Regions from separate parts of the Homo sapiens genome. Here all the other regions are linked to region 1. The links come from fine-mapping of genetic effects on gene expression. A gene starts in region 1. Each other region holds a variant in brackets. All regions are shown on one strand. Distances are from middle to middle.

Region 1 (5,871 bases):
GAGGTCTCCCTTTGTTGCCCAGGCTGGTCTTGAACTCCTGGTCTCAAGCGATTTGCCCACCTCAGCCTCCCAGTGTTGGGATTACAGGCGTGAGCCACCACACCTGGGCCCCATTCTTTTCTTAACAGCTTTATTGAGATATAATACATACCATATAATTCACCCATTTAAAACATAAAATTCAACAGTTTAGGATATTCACAGGCATGTGCAACCATCACCACAGTCCATTTTAGAACATTTTCCTTACCACAGAGAAACCTGCCATCCTTTGGCTCTGACCCTGCTATTCCCTCAGGCCTAAGCAACCGCTAATTAACTTTCCATCTGTAGAGATTTGCCGATTCTGGATATACAACAGGTGGTCTTGTGTGACTGGCTTCCTTCACTCACCATAATATTTTCAAAGTTCATTCTTTTTTTTTTTTTTTTGAGACGGAGTTTTGCGCTGTCACCTGGGCTGGAGTGCAGTGGCACGATCTCTGCTCACTGCAAGCTCCGCCTCCCAGGTTCACGCCATTCTCCTGCCTCAGCCTCCCGAGTAGCTGGGACTACAGGTGCCCGCCACCACGCCCAGCTAATTTTTTTCTTGAAGGCTCCATCCATGTTGTTACACGTATCAGTACTTCATTTCTTTTTATGGATTAATATTTCTATTGTATAGATACATCACTTGTTTTTTTTTCCCGAGACCAAGTCTCACTATGTCACCTAGGCTGGAGTGCAGTGACGAGATCTCGGTTCACTGCAAACTCCACCCCCCGGGTTCAAGTGATTCTTGTGTCTCAGCCTCCCGAGTAAGCTGGCATTACACATGTGCGCCACCATGCCTGGCTAATTTTTGTGTTTTCAGTAGAGATGGGGTTTCACCATGTTGGCCAGGCTGGTCTGGTCTTGAACTCCTGCTCTCAAGTGATCCGCCTACCTCGGTCTCCCAAAGTCTGGGATCACAGGCATGAACCACCACATCTGACATTTGAGCATCTTTTCATGTGCTTATTGGCCATTTGTATTTATATTATTTGGAAAAATGTCTCTTGAAATCTTTTGCTTTTTTTTTTTCTTCTTTGACACAGGGTCTCTCACCTTCTGAGTAGCTGGGACCACAGGTGTGTGCCACCCAACCTGGCTAATTTTTTTTTTTTTTTTTGTAGCAGTGAGGTCTTCCCACGTTGCCCAAGTTGGTCTCAAACTCCAAGCCCCTGAGATATACATGATTTGCAAGTACTTTCTTCCATTCTGTGAGTTGTCTTTTCACTTTCTTGACAATGTTCTTGTCAGGCCTCTGAGCCCAAGCTAAGCCATCATAGCCCCCGTGACCTGCACGTATACATCCAGATGGCCTGAAGCAACTGAATATCCACAAAAGAAGTGAAAATAGCCTTAACTGATGACATTCCACCACTGTGATTTGTTCCTGCCCCAACCTAACTGATCAATGTACTTTGTAATCTCCCCCACCCTTAAGAAGGTTCTTTGTAATTCTCCCCACCCTTGAGAATGTACTTTGTGAGATCCATCCCTGCCCGCAAAACATTGCTCCTAACTCCACCACCTATCCCAAAACCTATAAGAACTAATGATAATCCCACCACCCTTTGCTTACTCTTTTCAGACTCAGCCCGCCTGCACCCAGGTGAAATAAACAGCCTTGTTGCTCACACAAAGCCTGTTTGGTGGTCTGTTCACACGGACACGCGTGACAGTTCTTTGTTGCAGAAAAATATTTCACTTTGATGAAGTACAGTTTATTTTTCTGTTGTCACTTGTGCTTTTGATGTCATATCTAAAAAACCATTGCCTGGCCGCATTGGCTCACACCTGTATCCCAGCACTTTGGGAGGCTGAGGCAGGCAAATCACTTGAGGTCAGGAGTTCAAGAGCAGCCTGGCCAACATGGTGAAACCCTGCTTTTACAAAAATTATCCAGGCATGGTGGAGGGTGCCTGTAATCCCAGTTACTGGGGAGGCTGAGGCAGGAGAATCGCTTGAACCTGGGAGGCGGAGGTTGCAGTGAGCCAAGATCGCGCCACTGCACTCCAGCCTGGGTAACAGAGCAAGATCTGTCTAAAATAAATAAATACGTAAATAAATAAAAATAAAAAAACATGACTAGGTGTGGTGGCTAACGCCTGTAATCCCAGCACTTTGGGAGGCCAAGGTGGGTGGATCACCTGAGGTCAGGAGTTTGAGACCAGCCTGGCTAACCTGGTGAAACCCCAGTCTCCACTAAAAATACAAAAAATTAGCCGGGCATGGTGGCACGTGCCTGTAATCCCAGCTACTCCGGAGGCTGAGGCAGGAGAATCGCTTGAACCCGGGAGGCAGAGGTTGCAGTAAGCTGAGATCACGCCATTGCACTCCAGCTTGGACAACGAGAGCGAAACTCCGTCTCAAAAACAGAAACCAAATAAACATTTCCTAACCAATGTCACAAAACTGTACCCCTATGTTTTCTTCTAAGAGTTTTCAGAATTGCCCTTGGAATGCAGTTCCCCACTCTTTGGGCACACCCCTGAGCAGGCCCCAAGCTAAATCCCTGGCCATAACTCCCCACACTACTCCCACCCTAACCCCAAGCAAGCTGCTTACATTTCAGTCTTTCAGTTTCAAGGTTCCATGTAGGGTGGGCAGCTGTGGACAGGTATCAAGGCAGCAGTTGGGGCCGGCCAGCAGGTTTAGGATGCAGGATAGCAAGAGAAGAGTGCCTGACTGGGAACAAGGCCACGCCTCTGAGACAAGGGCTTCTGGGCTGAAGTAGTGCCTGCTGGGGCCAACAGCACAACCTACCTGGACAGCTGTGGCAGGTCCTTAAGGGAGGGGCTGGGCCCACTGCTGGCCACCGCCACCCTAGTCCAATTCTCCATTGCTAGGAGCTGTTGCGTATTACCTAGAAAAGGAGCTTGTAAAATTGACTCTCTGGTCACCACCAAACTTGTCTTTTTTTTTTTTGAGACAGAGTTTTGCTCTTGTTGCCCAGGCTGGAGTGCAATGGTGTGATCTCAGCTCACCGAAACCTCCGCCTCCCAGGTTCAAGTGATTCTCCTGCCTCAGCCTCCCGAGTAGCTGGGATTACAGGCATGAGCCACCATGCCCAGCTAATTTTGTATTTTTTAGTAGAGATGGGGTTTCTCCATGTTGGTCAGGCTGGTCTCCAACTCCCGACCTCAGGTGATCTGCACACCTCGGCCTCCCAAAGTGCTGGGATTACAGGCGTGAGCCACTGCGCCCGGCCCAAACTTGTCTGTCTTTATCTCTACTTACAGTGAGTGTCAGGTCACCCTCTTGGAGACCGGTGATCAGAGGCTGATGACCTCTCACAGCTGCTGGCCCTGGGGACCTAGGGGATCCCTTTGGGAATCCCAGGTCAACCGGGTGCCAGCTCCATTGCTCTGGCTGTGTGGGTGGTGGTGGGTGGTGAGGCACATAGAAAGTCACCAGCGCCAGGGAAGGGCAGCTCAGAAATCCTGGTCATGCCAAGTGCCACTCAGGGCTATTCTCACTCTAGTGAGTGCTCATTGGTTCTTCCCGAAGTCCAGAGGGAAGGACACCATCGGGGGCGCTGTATCCCACCCGGCACCATTAGCCCCTGCCACCCACCACCCAGCAGCTGGATTCCCACGGGAGTTGCGGGTGGGGGCGGAACCGGCTGAGGTCTGGGGGCGGGGCGTCCGGGCGCGGGGCGGGGCTGGCGGGAATGTGCGCACCCCCGCGCGGGGCCCCGCCCGAGCATCCCGCGCCGACGGGGCTGTGCCGGAGCAGCTGTGCAGAGCTGCAGGCGCGCGTCATGGCTGCTTTGAGACAGCCCCAGGTCGCGGAGCTGCTGGCCGAGGCCCGGCGAGCCTTCCGGGAGGAGTTCGGGGCCGAGCCCGAGCTGGCCGTGTCAGCGCCGGGCCGCGTCAACCTCATCGGGGAACACACGGACTACAACCAGGGCCTGGTGCTGCCTATGGTGAGGGGCTGCACGGGGAGCCCCTAGCCCGCCGCCGCCTGTCCCGGCCGCCGAGGAGGGCGGGCCTCGGGGACGCTGGGGGCGAGTTCTTCCCGCGGGAGATGTGGGGCGGGCAGCTGCGCCTGGAGCACCGGTGCACGGAAGAGTCCCCGGGACAGGCTGTTCCCCACGTTGGAAGGGAGGAAGCGAGGAAGTGGCCGGGAGAGGGTGCGCGGCCGCCTCTTGGCTCAAGCCCGCCCTCTGGGGGCTGGGGCTCCTCGCCTTCAACCTGGGAGCATGTTCCCCTTAAACTGTGAGGCCCTGTGTGCCACGCAGAAGGGGACACTCCGCGCCTCCGGCCACCGTGGGGCCCCAACCGCAGACCTGGGCGAACGTAGCCTTCTGGCCCAGCCCGTTCAATTTACAGAGGAGGAAACTGAGGCCTAGAGAGGCCCAGTGAACTGCTGGAGGTCACACAGCAGGTTCTTGGCGGGGCTGCGACTTGGGAGTGAGGACTCCCAGCTTTCAGCGGGGGGCGCTTTCCGCCCCATCTGCAGCTTGGGGAGTGCACAGGTACAGGATGTCCAGAGCCACCCCAAAATGTAAAGGCTTTGGAGCTCCAGTGATCTGTTTTCCCTTTGGGCTAGCTCTCCCCCTTGCCCCACAGCTCAGGGCAGAGTCCAGGTCTGTGCTCCAGCTGCAGCCGCCCCGCCCCTGAAGACCTAAGGGGGCAGGGCTCAAGCCCCCAAGGTCAGCTGGCCCTCAGGATCTTCCCTGCGACGCTGAACCTGGAGGTTCAGAACCTGATGACTGTGGAGGCATCAGAACCTCGGCTGGAGGCAGTGTCATTGGAGAGGCTTACTCCAGCTGGCGGAAGCCTCACGTACTGCTTGTCTCTCCTGCCAGGCTCTGGAGCTCATGACGGTGCTGGTGGGCAGCCCCCGCAAGGATGGGCTGGTGTCTCTCCTCACCACCTCTGAGGGTGCCGATGAGCCCCAGCGGCTGCAGTTTCCACTGCCCACAGCCCAGCGCTCGCTGGAGCCTGGGACTCCTCGGTGGGCCAACTATGTCAAGGGAGTGATTCAGTACTACCCAGGTATGGGGCCCAGGCCTGAGCCAAGTCCTCACTGATACTAGGAGTGCCACCTCACAGCCACAGAGCCCATTCATTTGTCTGATACACTGTGGGGAAGGCTTGTAGAGTGGAGCATCCCATTGTACAGATGAGGAAACTGATGCCCCCAGAAGGTCGGGAACTTGCCCTGGGTTTCCCGTGACCTGATTGGAGGAGCCAGGATTTGAACCCCAGCCTTTTTTCCCTCCAGAGCCCTAAACCAGGAGGACAATTAGAAGTGTCCCAGCAACCTCAGAGGGTGGGAAAATGGAGGGCAGTGGGTCCCTTGGCCCAGCAGGTTGGTGGCTTCTGACAATTGAGACACACACCCTAGAAACAGCTGCTAGGCCGTTGCTGCCCTTCCCGCCAGGACACCTGCCCTTCCTGTGCCATCCTCCCAGGCAGCCCCTCTTACCATCACCTGTTCTTTCCCCTGCAGCTGCCCCCCTCCCTGGCTTCAGTGCAGTGGTGGTCAGCTCAGTGCCCCTGGGGGGTGGCCTGTCCAGCTCAGCATCCTTGGAAGTGGCCACGTACACCTTCCTCCAGCAGCTCTGTCCAGGTACCAGCTAGGCCCCAGCCCTGACCCAGCCCTCCTTCCCTGAGGTCTCCAGGTGGTCCCAGCTTCTACTATGCCTTATGGAGGGGGTGGCAGGGACTCTCCCTGGAGTGTCATTGAAGCCACTGCTGCTTCCACCAGCCCTAGCCTCCCCACCTCACCCTGTACTGCAGACTCGGGCACAATAGCTGCCCGCGCCCAGGTGTGTCAGCAGGCCGAGCACAGCTTCGCAGGGATGCCCTGTGGCATCATGGACCAGTTCATCTCACT
Region 2 (5,871 bases), 79 kb before region 1:
GTCGCACAGAGAGCCTCAGAATGGCCAGAGACTGCTGAGAGCCGCAGATGATGGATGACCCCTGGACTACCCCAGGGGCCCAGCAGGGCTGTGGCCTGGTGGAGCGGAGCTAGATTCTGGCCCCACCCCCATCCCTTAGCTATCCATGTGCCCTGGGCGGGGAAGGTCACCCTGTGTGCCTCTCGATCCTCTCATCTACACTCAGCTGGTCGGTCACAGTGGCACCTGGGGCATTGGCTCAAGGATTAGATGAGGTGAGACATGCGATGGGCCTGGAAAGGACCGTGCCAGCGCGTGGCATGTGCTCAGGAAACCTCACCTGCTGCTCTCATTGGTGGAACTGGACCCCCAGCACCAGCTGCCCCGAGCCATGGGGGCCCGGGGTCTCTTAGCTGAGCTCAGGGGGAGGAGAACTTGTCACCGACACCAGGTGTGTTTGCTCTCACAGCCGAAGCCAAGGCCGCAGAAGCAGCCGCCAGCGCCTATTACAACCCAGGCAATCCTCACAACGTCTACATGCCCACGGTGAGAGGGCTTGGCAGTGCCGGTGCAGCCCCACAGCCGCAGATGCTGGGAGCCGCAGGGGGATGACCGCACCATGTTTTAAACCTTCTAATGCAAGTCTCTCCTTTCTCCCTTCTTTAGAGCCAGCCGCCGCCACCTCCCTACTACCCACCGGAAGATAAGAAGACCCAGTAGGCCCTCCTGCCTCCCTGCCTCCCACCCTCATCTCTCTACCCTACCCCTCCCATCGGGGCTGTGCTGGGGCTTGGGGAGGGGAGGGGGCGCCTTGTTCTCCCTCCAGGTCTGATCATAAACAATTACCAGGAACTAGCATTGTGGGACATTAGGGCCCCCGGCCTCGGGAGAGGTGCCGCCCAGCTTCCCATGCCAGCCCGGAGCCCACAGTGCTGCCCAGCGTACCTCCCTCACCGTCTGGGGCTCTTCTGGGAGCACGGAGCATCCCCTGTTCCTGTTTCACTCTCAGCTTCTCCCCTCGAAGGGACTCTCTGGCCACCTCCTCCACCGCAGTCCAGCTCCCTCAGTCTGGCACCCACTGCTACACTCAGCCTCATGAGCCACTTCAGACCAGCCAGGTGTCTTCCCGGGCCCTGCCAGACCCTGCTCACATTCCCTCTGCTGGTCTGTGCTGGTCTCAGAAGGCCACCGCGCCCGCATTCCACTCAGCCAGGGTCCAGCTGCAGCCCCCGCCACCCTTCCTTCCCTTCCCTGTCCTGGGTCATGTTGTTGCCACCCTGTGTGACTTTTGAAGCTGTAAAATGAGCTTCCAGGGCTTGGGTGGCGTCGGGGCAGGGCCGCCGAGGCTGGGAGGAAGCCCTTCTGCCTTTTGCTGGTGTTTCTGGAATTTGCTTTCCCTCACCTCTCACTTCCTTCTAGAAGGAGCTTCCTGACTGGAACCAGAGAATGCATGTCTGTCCACTTGGTGGCTGCTGGGTGGGGCCGGGAACAAGGGCCCCTGACCCTGTGTGCTGGCCGGGACCTGCCACCAGCCCCCCAGCCTGCTTCTTCCCCTTAAGCTTTGTGCCCCTGGATGCGCTAACATTCACTCTTGTTTGTCCCTGGACTGGCCATGAAGTGAGGAGATGGTTATTTAAAGAGAATTCCCTATTTATTTGACAAAAAATCCAGTTAATATATTAATGTGAAATAAACCCTGTTTGCACCTCGATTTGTTTGCTGAAAATGTGAAATAGTAAAAATGAAATAACTGGACCCTTTCTGGCTCTGCGTGTGGTGACCCGGGGGTCTCTTCCGGAAGGAGAGCCGTCTGGCCGCTGAGGGCCCTGGAGACTTCTGGGACGGTTCCCTCCCATGGGAGGATCCCCATTCTCACGGCCCAGCCAGCCTGTCTGGTCCCCAAGACAGCTCTGGCCTCTGGAGCTGGTTCTTAACGGTTGTCGCTCAGCAGCTGTGTCCCTCCCCCACTGAGTCCCCAGGGCCTGGCTGGGACAGAGGTGGATGTGGCCCAGAGTTGGCCTTGAAGGGAGGAGTTGGGGCTGCCACCTTGTCCCCTGCTGGCTCCTCGAGGAATGGCAGCCCTGGCCTAAGTCCTGGTTGCTGGAGGGAGGAGGCCGAGTCAGCCCTGGAGCACGTCAGGACCTGTGACAGGGACACTGAGGTAGCCAAGCCGGCTTGCCACCACCCACGTCACGTGCCCTGCTGTGAACTTGAAGGGACAGGAGGGTGGGAAATGGCCAAAGGCCGTGACCAGGCCCACACGCCCGCAAGTCCCCCAGCCCAGCACTGGGCACAGGGTGGGCAGGCCACAGAGCTCTAGGAAAGCCCCATGCTGAGGCGCATTTTCCTGTCCCCCGGGAGCCAAGTCTGTCCTCAGGAGAGATCGGGCAGCAGCCCCTCTGCCTCCTCCTCCTGGCCAGCCTGGCCCAGAGCTCTCTGGGACTTGGCTAAGCCCCCTTCAAGGGTGTCTGAAGGGAGCACTGTCCTGACTGCCAAGGTGGGGGCAGGGGCACAGGGCTGTCCCTGCCCAGCACAGCTTGGCCCCGTCATCTCCAAGGAATGTCACCTGTGGGGCCAGGCAGGCTGAGCAACTGGCTGTCCTCCAGGGAGACGCCTCTTGGGAGCCCCCACCCTGGGCGCCACCACACCCCACCCCACCCCGCCCCGCCCCACGTCTGGACGCACTCGAGGAAGTGGGGTGAGAACCCCCCCGGGCCCAGGTCAGCTTCTCTCAGGGTTCAGCCCAGCCTGGGCACAGCACATGGATGGGGCAGGATGCTGCCCGCCTGTTCTGGGCCCCCCCGCCCCCTGCTGAGAGCGTTGTCCCCTTCCCAGGGCCTCTGTAGGAGGGTGGGG[C/T]GGGGCCAGGCCTGCCCACGGGGTCCACCTTCTGCTCCAGCCAGAGGAGGGTCCTGTAGGGATCCCAGCTGGGGAAGGTGCAGGGGGCCTGGGAGACTGCCTCTCCGAAGCGGTGAAACCCTCACCCTTCCGTCCCTCCCAGCCACCCTCCCTAAAACTTCCCCTGACAGAGGGTGGCAGCCCCAGGCTCTTTGCATAATCCTGTGGCTTCGCTGTCTTCACCCAGCACCAGCGGACAGGGAAGGGCAGAGAAGGCCACCATGGCGACACTCCTCTCCCATCCGCAGCAGCGCCCTCCCTTCTTGCGCCAGGCCATCAAGATAAGGCGCCGCAGAGTCAGAGATCTACAGGATCCCCCGCCCCAAATGGCCCCGGAGGTAGGAGTGACCTCACTGGGGAGAGAGCTGGCCTTGGGGAGCACTGTGGTCTCGGGTACGGGTGCCCTGCTGTCTGGCCCCACCTCTCGAAGGCTGGGACTGGGGACCAGCGACCCTCCCCTGCCTACTCCACCCTGGGGAGAGCCCCCTGGGCCAGCAGAGCAGGGGCTGCCAGATGGACTCTGGGCCACTGTGGGCCTCAGGCCCTGTGGTCTGAGGCTCTCAGAACCCCTCCCTCCCGGTTGGCCTGACCCCATCCCCTACTCCTCCAGCTTCAGAAGAGCCGACTCCATTAGGTGGGGGTGTCCCTGCTGTGGGGTGAGCTGTTCGGGGAGCAGCAGACCCCCAGGCCGACGTGGCACCCCCCTCACCTCCGCTGCCGAGCCTCACTTCCGCTGCTGGGTGAGGAGCAGCCGCCACTGATAAGCAGAGCTGTTTCCTCTGGGGAAGGGAGGGAGGTGGGGTGCGGGTGCGGAGGGCTCGCGCTGCTGGGCACCCATGGACCTCAGCCACGGCGGGCCCAGGGACGGACCTCCAGGAGGCCTGCTGGGGGAACAGGTGCGGGGCATCACTGGGGCTGGAGGCCGGGGTGCTGGGGCCCCCATACCCTTGGCCTGGATCAGGCCTCAGAGGAGCCATTCCTGTCCATCTGAGCCTGCTCTGGGCCTCCCGGGACACTGCCTTTCCACCTTGCTCTGCAGATCCAGCCTCCATCCCACCACTTCTCCCCCGAGCAGGTAAGAGTCAGAGTGCTGGGGTGCAGAGAGGTGGGGAGGGCGGCTGTGTGTCCTCCTGCCGGCCGACGCTGATGGCAGCAAGCAACTTGCGGTGGGGAGGGGACTCCTGGGTCTCAACTCCCTCCGCTGCACAAGCCGCCCTTGTCCTGCCCATGGCGAGAGGTGTTGGTGCCAGGGGTGGCTGGTGGGGTCCCCAAGGTGACCCCGTGTGTCTTAGCGGGCCCTGCTCTACGAGGACGCACTCTACACTGTCTTGCACCGCCTGGGTCATCCTGAGCCCAACCATGTGACGGAGGCCTCTGAGCTGCTGCGATACCTGCAGGAGGTGAGCCCGGCTCCCACCCCACCCCCCTTCCTGCAGCTGCCCTGTCTGGTGCCCCCAGCCACCCACCCGCCTGCCTCCCCACCAGGCCTTCCACGTGGAGCCCGAGGAGCACCAGCAGACACTGCAGCGGGTCAGGGAGCTTGAGGTAACCTGGGGCCAGGGTCCCCCTGGGCAAGGAGGGGCCTGGGAAGCCCAGCCCCCTCAGGGACTCAGGCCATCCCTCCTGTCCCTCCAGAAGCCAATATTTTGTCTGAAGGCAACAGTGAAACAGGCCAAGGGCATTCTGGGCAAAGATGTCAGTGGTGAGCATGGGGTGGGGTCCCCAAGGGGCTTCTTCCTGGCTCCTTCCTCTCCCATCACAGCCTGGCCCAGGACTCTTGGCGGGAGCACCCACTTCCAAGAAGCCCTGTAGCGCTGGCCCCCCATGCTGCTGGTCCCCTTCCCTCTCCCCCGGAGGAGGCTCAGCCCCGGGCGGGGGTGATGAGGGCCTCTCCCAGGGACCCAGCCGACTCCCTGGCTGCCTCGTCTTCCCCACTCCTCCACAGGGTTCAGCGACCCCTACTGCCTGCTGGGCATTGAGCAGGGGGTAGGTGTGCCAGGGGGCAGCCCCGGGTCCCGGCATCGGCAGAAGGCTGTGGTGAGGCACACCATCCCCGAGGAGGAGACCCACCGCACGCAGGTCATCACCCAGACACTCAACCCCGTCTGGGACGAGACCTTCATCCTGTACGTGGCCGTGCTCCAGCCCCCACTCTATCCAGGTCTTTCCTGGGTAGCAGGGTCTGCCCCAGACAATGAGATGAGTAGGTCGTCCTGGCTCAGGGGAGGGGGTTTGGCCCTGGGCAAAGACTAGAGGAGAAGCCCATCTCCAGGCACGTTAGGTGGACAGTAGGTCAGATGGGACAGAACAAGATCAATGCCACACGTGCTGATGGGGCAAGGAGGGTCAGGCCCTTGTGGGTGAGTCTGGGGGTGCCTGAAGCTGTACCTGAAAGGAGGCAGGGATGGGTGCAGTGGTTCCCACCTGTAATCCCAGCACTTTGGGAGGCCAGGAGACTGAGACCAGCCTGGCCAACATGGCAAAACCCCATCTCTACTAAAAATACAAAAAAGGCCGGGCGTGGTGGCTCACGCCTATAATCCCAGCATTTTGGGAGGCTGAGGAGGGCAGATCATGAGGTCAGGAGATTGAGACCATCCTGGCTAACACGGTGAAACCCCGTCTCTACTAAAATACAAAAAATTAGCCGGGCGTGGTGGCAGGCGCCTGTAGTCCCAGCTACTCGGAAGGCTGAGGCAGGGGAATCGCTTGAACCTGGGAGGCGGAGGTTGCAGTGAGCCGAGATAGCACCACTGCACTCCAGCCTGGTGACAGAGCGACACTCTGTCTCAAAAAAAAAAAAAAAAATTAGTGGGGGCCAGGCGCAGGGACTCATGCCTGTAATCCCAGCACTTTTGGGAGGCCGAGGCAGGTGGATCACCTGAGGTCAGGAGTTTGAGACCAGCCTGGCCAACACAATGAAGGCCCACCTCTCCTAAAAGTACAAAAATTAGCCGGGCGTGGAGGTGCATGCCTGTAATCCCAGCTACTTAAGAG
Region 3 (5,871 bases), 160 kb before region 1:
GGCAAGCCTGAGGCAGGCCCCGTAGGTCCAGGGCCGCCCTCCAACTCCCTCTCTCCTTGCCCGGCCTGTCTTTTTGTGGAGTCCCCGTTGCCCCAGGCCCCACCCTCCAGATGCCAGGGGGCTTGTTTATGTACTGGAGCAGCTAGAAGCCTTGACTCGAGCGCTGCTCCCCAGTTCAGGCTTGCTTTTCCTCAACTAAGTGCTGCAGTCTGACCTGTGCTTTCCCTTCTGCTGTGAGACTTGGAAGACCCATTGAGAGGACTTCTCTCCTATGATGAAGGAGGAATCACCAAGCAGCCGCCTGTGACACAGAGTAAAACAGCTTCTGACAAGAGCCCCAGCACAGTGAGAGATCAAGGTAGGGTGGAGTGGGCTCATTTCCCATCCTGGAGGAAGAGTTTATTGGCAACAAGCTAACCAGCCTTTCTGGTGCAGAACCAGAGGCCTCTCCCAGGTGGGGACCAGAGGTCTAAGGTCCAGTACAAAGAGATCATCAGCCTTTAGGAATAGGAAGGTAGGACGTGTGAGTCTGGGAGTAGGCTGGAGGAATTGGGTCCCGTGGACAGACCAGGCAGGTCTAAAGCCTGTCGTCCTACCCAAAGGTGCAGAGAAACCACCCCCAACCCCATTCAGATATCACAGTTGAGGGCAAGAAGGCTGCAGGCATTGGGCCTTGTTTTGTCTTTCAGGTCCCTCTATTCCTCTAACTCCTGGGGACACCCCCATCCGAAAAAAAGAAGAATTGTTGTTTGATGATGGGGATGACATCATGGCCACCTTGGGGTTTGGAGACAGCCCCAAAGCAGAGAAGAGGCAGATAGGAGACCAGTAAGGATCCCTGAGTAGGCCAGGCTGCTGCCTCAGGTTCAGGGAAAAGCTGGTGGACGGGTACTGTGGGATTCCCGAGAGCCCCTCATACCTACACGTTCCTGCCGTGTGTCCCGTCCTGCAGGGAAGGGCCTCGCCCTGCTCGCTCCACGCTGGATGAGCTGCTGGGTCGAGGCATGGCCACCAAACTCCTGGCCCGCCCGGGCACCGGGGAGCACAGGGAGTTCAAGCTAGACAAGAAGTACCAGAGGCCACAGGGTAAGGAGGCTTGCGGGGGCCGCAACAGGACGGGAGGGAGGCCTCTAGATCAGGCTTTCATCACAACCTATAATGAGAAATCAGCCTCACATCCTGATACACACATGTGATTATACACGTCTATAGCTGAGACAAAATAATACTTACCGTGAAATAATACTTACCGTGACCACTGTTCGTGCTCAGTTGTCTATGATTGAGATGCTGTTTGATTTGGAAACACACTGGCTGTGACACATTAAGCTGGTTTCTCAGCCCTCTCATGGGTAGCAGCTCGCATTTGAAAAGCACTGCTCTGGACATGTTTCTCAAAGCATCAGCCCACAAGCTGTCTGCTGAGAATCATTCTTGTGACACATGCCGCTCGCTGGACCTGACCTCGAGGGATCCTGGGGCAGGGTCTGGCTACTGCAAGGCCACTGCATCTTCCTGGCCAGTGCCTGAGGTGCTCCCTTCACAGCAGCTTCCCTCTGCTTGTCTTACACAACAAGCTACCAAATTCAGCTTTTGTTAGAATTTTGCAGCCGCAAATGAGCTTGGTTCCCCTACTCCAGATCACGGTCACAGGCTCCTTAATTCACAGACAGTGAAGATATGTGGGGTGACGAGGACTTCACCTTTGGAGCCTATCAGCCCACTGTGGTCTCCTCTGAGGGCCGGCAGTCCCGCCGGCAGTCTGTCAGGTAAGTGGGGCCTGCAGGAGGCTTGGCCTCTTGAGACAGGTCGGCCACTGGGAAGACAGGCCCCTGCAGCTGTCCCCTGTCCCACCCGAGAGTCTCATGTGGGAGGCCACAGGGTACAAGGCCCTCAGCTCTGCAGGTGCTGAAGGAAGCGGGAGATGGCCTGGTCCCGCCAGCCCAGACAGAGTGGAGGAGATGGCCCCAGTGGGAACCCCCATCCCAGACGCTGCTCAGGTTCGCCAGTGCCCCACCCAGCCTCAGAAGGAAAGGGGCAGGTGGGCCTGCCTCCACCTAAAGCCCCTGAAATCATAAAAGGCTGTGATGTCGCTCGGTCTCCCCAAGGAACATACTTCCTGATGGGTAGCAAGACCACTGGCATCTGCGGTGGCTTCTTAGACCCCGCTTCCCAGGAACTCTGCTGTCGAACCTGCCGTGACAATTCTGACAGCGTGATCCTCTCAGTTTACAAAAAAAAAAATTAAATCAGTGATAGGATTTTCTGAGTTTGGAGTTCTTTTGCCAGTATATATTTTAAACTTTGTATTTTGAAGTAATTTCAAACTTCAAAAGTCGGCTGGGTATGGTGGCTCATGCCTGTAATCTCAGCAGTTTGGGAGACCAAGGCAGGTGGATCACCTGAGGTCAGGAGTTCAAGACCAGCCTGGCCAACATGGTGAAACCCCGTCTCTGCTGAAAATACAAAAATTAGCTGGGCGTGGTGGTGGGCGCCTGTGATTCCAGCTACTCGGGAGGCTGAGGCAGGAGAATAGCTTGAATCCTAGAGGCGGAAGTTGTGGTGAGCTGAGATTGCACCACTCACTGCACTCCAGCCTGGGCAATAGAGCGAGACTCCGTCTCAAAAAAAAACTTCAGAAGTTGTAAGAACAGCACCAGGAGCCCCTCTCATCCTTTCCCAGGTTCAGCAGTTGTTCCCATTTGCCAGGTTGGCTTCTTCATCCTCTTTCTATCTGAATAGCTCTAAGCACATCGGCATTACTTCCCATACCCAGTACGTTCTTAACCCTGGGAACCTGCTGCCACTGGTCAGTGACAGATGAAGGCCACGGCCGAACAAATGAAGTAACTGTTGTTGGAAAACCTGGAAACCACTTGATCCAACTTATTATTATTTTTTTTAGACAGAGTCTCACTCTGTCGCCCAGGCTGGAGTGCAGTGGCATGATCTCGGCTTACCACAACCTCTGCCTCCCGGGTTCAAGCAATTCTCATGCCTCAGCCTCCCAAGTAGCTGGGATTACAGGCGCCCACCACCACACCTGACTAATTTTTTT[G/TG]TGTTTTTAGTAGAGATGGGGTTTCACATGTTGGCCAGGCTGGTCTTGAACTCCTGGCCTTAAGCGATCTGCCCACCCTGGCCTCCCAAAGATCTGGGATTACAGACATGAGCCACCGTGCTCGGCCTGATTTTTCTTTAGACCTGTGTGCCCATGGCTGTCATTTGATCCTGTTCCTGTTCTCTGTGGGTAGAACTGTCCCTGGTTCATGTGATGGAAGTCAAGGTCTCTGTACTTCGTGGTGTTCTACAGACAGCACGTGGCCTGCCACCTGAGCCGGTCCAGGAGCCACTGCTCACTGGGCCTCAGCTGACTGTGCAGGGTCCCTGGGCATCGTGACGCCCAGCTGCAGGCTGCTAGGGGGCCACTGGGACTGGCTGTTTCCCCTGCCTGACACCCTCCTTTCTGTCTTGAAGTAGGTTCTTCGCAGACAGTGGCGCAGACCCCAAGGGAGAACCAGGCTCCAAACAGAGCCCTCCAATGGCTTCCAGCCCCATCCAGCCCAGGAAGGGAGGAGCTGACTGGTTGGGCCTCAAGGACGAGGACTTGGACCTGTTCCCTGCCTCACCCACCAGAGAGGCCCATCGGGAAAGTTCAGTGCCTGTCACGCCCTCAGTGCCTCCTCCTGCGAGCCAGCACTCCACGCCAGCTGGGCTGCCCCCCTCCAGGGCAAAGCCACCAACTGAAGGTGCAGGGTCCCCTGCCAAAGCCAGCCAGGCTTCCAAGCTGCGAGCCTCCAAGGAGGAGAAAGAGGACTGGCTGAGCCATGCCCTGTCTCGGAAGAAGTCCCAAGGCCTGGCCAGAGAGCAGCATGCTGGGACCTCTGAGGGCCTGCATTTGGCGGGGACAGCGGGCCATCCCCCTTCTGGCAGGTACTGACTTAGGCTGCTGTGGCTAGTAGGGGGAGGACTGGCTGGGGACTTGAGGAGCCCCTTTGCCCCTTCACCTGTTGCAGCCTCAGTCAGCAGTTGGGGAACAAGGCAGGGCGCCGTGGCCACAGAGGCCGCTTCTTGGCTTTGCTACTCTGCCTTTTAGGCACTGCAGAGAGAGCCTCTGGCTCCCAGGCTTGCCCCAGGGACATACCCAAGAAGGAGGGCTGTTGACATTCATGCCCTGACCGCCATGGGGACAGGTGCTAACTTGATCGAGGAGAAGACAGAGGGTCCCTGAGGTGGCAGACACACCGCTGCCCTGTCACAGCGCCCTCAGGCTGGAAGCCCCGGCATCCAAACAGCCGGTGCTTCTGCCGACTCCACTGAAGCGAGTATGGCGTGTGTGAGCTGAGATGTCCCTGTGCTCTTTGAGAGTGTTAGAGGAGACATAGTGGCCGAGAGGCGCCTCTTGGAGAAGCCCTTATCCGTGGGGCAGGATAGCGAGTGACCTCTGAAGGCAGGAAGGCACAAGGGGCCAGCAGGCTGGGGGAGTCCAGAGGAAGTGGTGAGATGTGCTGTGGCCAGAGCCCAGGGGAGTGAACTGGGCAATTTGTGACAGCCCAGGGACATCACCCTGTCCTGGGGTTGATGACAGGAGGGCAGTTTTGACTTTGACCTGAGGCCGAGGGGAAAGCTCAGGCCAAAACAGAAAAGAGCCTGTCTCTTCACTGACCCGTGAGCCGAGAAAGAGGTGGAAATAATGGGAAAGGGAGCCAGCCAGATTTGGTAGACTGAGCAGAATCCTAATCTAGAGCTGAGCCAAGTTAAGTGGACTGGAACAGGGCTCTGAACTTGAACTTGACTCCAGTGTCTATAACATTTCCGTTGTCACTGCTTGGACAGTGTCCATTCACTGCACCACTGTGGACATTGAGGCAGGAAGGGGGTACTGGAAGGGAAGAGATGCCCAGAAATCCCAGGAGCTCAGACGTGGGAGGAGAATGCCCCAAGACGGGATGGTGGAAGCAGGAGGAAGGGGGGCCACGAGCTTCACGTGTGAAGCCCGTCCTGGGCCCTGTCTTCATCCAGCCTGACCTGGGCCTTCTGTCACCTTCACCTTGAACGCTGCCTTTCCTCAGCCAACCTCTCACCAGCACACAAGGGCTTGAGCACGCAGCTGCTGGAGGGAGTTCTGGAACAACTGCACGAGAAAGACCGTGTGTCAGGCCTGGTGTCTCGGGGTAGGCCTGGGCTGCGGGCTGAGTGGGAATGAGAGCATGGTGGGCAGCACAGGCCTCTGTCCTGAGAGAGGGACACAGAGGCTGTTCACCCTGCCCCTGCCCCGTCCCCGTGTCCCACACAGAGGCTGCCCACCCTGCTCCGTCCCTGTGCCCTACACAGAGGCTGCCCACCCTGCCCCATCCCCGTGTCCCACCTAGAGGCTGCCCACCCTGCCCCGTCCCCGTGTCCCAGCAGAGGCTGCCCACCCTGCCCCATCCCCGTGTCCCACGTAGAGGCTGCCCACCCTGCCCCGTCCCCATGTCCCACCTAGAGGCTGCCCACCCTGCCCCGTCCCCGTGTCCCACACAGAGGCTGCTCACCATGCCCCATCCCTGTGTCCTCAGGTCCCCTGTGACTCAGAACCATGCCGCCTCAGCACTCCCTACAGGTTCCCCAAAGAGGGGAACAGCCCCTGGAGACCTCTCAGCCACTGGTTTGTTTTTTGTTTGCTGCTTCATTTGGGAGTTTAACCCTGGGTGAGGAAGAGGTGCTTTGAGCTTCCTTTGGGGTCCCTGGGACATGAGTTACACCAGCCCCTCCTGGACACTCGCAGGCCCAGTGCCCTGGGCCTCCTGTTCATTTCTCTGTTGTTGATGTTTCAGAGCCTGCCACGTGTTTCCCGAGCACCCAGAAACCCACAGAGCCTTCCGTGCCCGTCCA

What was found.
Region 2: its variant is fine-mapped to the expression of GALK1 in whole blood (TOPMed, PIP above 0.99).
Region 3: its variant is fine-mapped to the expression of GALK1 in whole blood (TOPMed, PIP 0.94).

The regions. Positions count from the first base shown.
Region 1 is chr17:75,763,053-75,768,923 of GRCh38, reverse strand. It overlaps GALK1 (galactokinase 1), which reads left to right and starts at 3,732. Exons shown (of 8, transcript NM_000154.2): 1 at 3,732-3,952; 2 at 4,838-5,027; 3 at 5,485-5,604; 4 at 5,775-5,871. The coding sequence starts at 3,788. RefSeq lists silencers at 3,568-3,757, 3,988-4,137 and enhancers at 4,248-4,477, 4,508-4,717.
Region 2 is chr17:75,841,562-75,847,432 of GRCh38, reverse strand. UNC13D (unc-13 homolog D) reads left to right here and starts at 3,029. Exons shown (of 32, transcript NM_199242.3): 1 at 3,029-3,212; 2 at 3,914-3,949; 3 at 4,167-4,274; 4 at 4,360-4,419; 5 at 4,510-4,576; 6 at 4,820-5,000. The coding sequence starts at 3,096. WBP2 (WW domain binding protein 2) reads left to right here. Exons shown (of 8, transcript NM_012478.4): 7 at 449-525; 8 at 646-1,734. The coding sequence ends at 699. RefSeq lists enhancers at 2,090-2,179, 2,310-2,389, 2,808-3,512 and silencers at 2,620-2,779, 2,790-2,849, 3,700-3,759. The variant C/T (reference allele first, on the strand shown) is at 2,836.
Region 3 is chr17:75,921,245-75,927,115 of GRCh38, reverse strand. It overlaps FBF1 (Fas binding factor 1), which reads left to right. Exons shown (of 30, transcript NM_001319193.2): 10 at 239-358; 11 at 690-828; 12 at 953-1,086; 13 at 1,670-1,769; 14 at 3,475-3,930; 15 at 5,070-5,171; 16 at 5,556-5,644; 17 at 5,814-5,871. Among named protein-coding and RNA genes, the nearest start is that of FBF1, 17 kb to the left of the region's middle. RefSeq lists enhancers at 214-1,413, 4,810-5,871. The variant G/TG (reference allele first, on the strand shown) is at 3,059.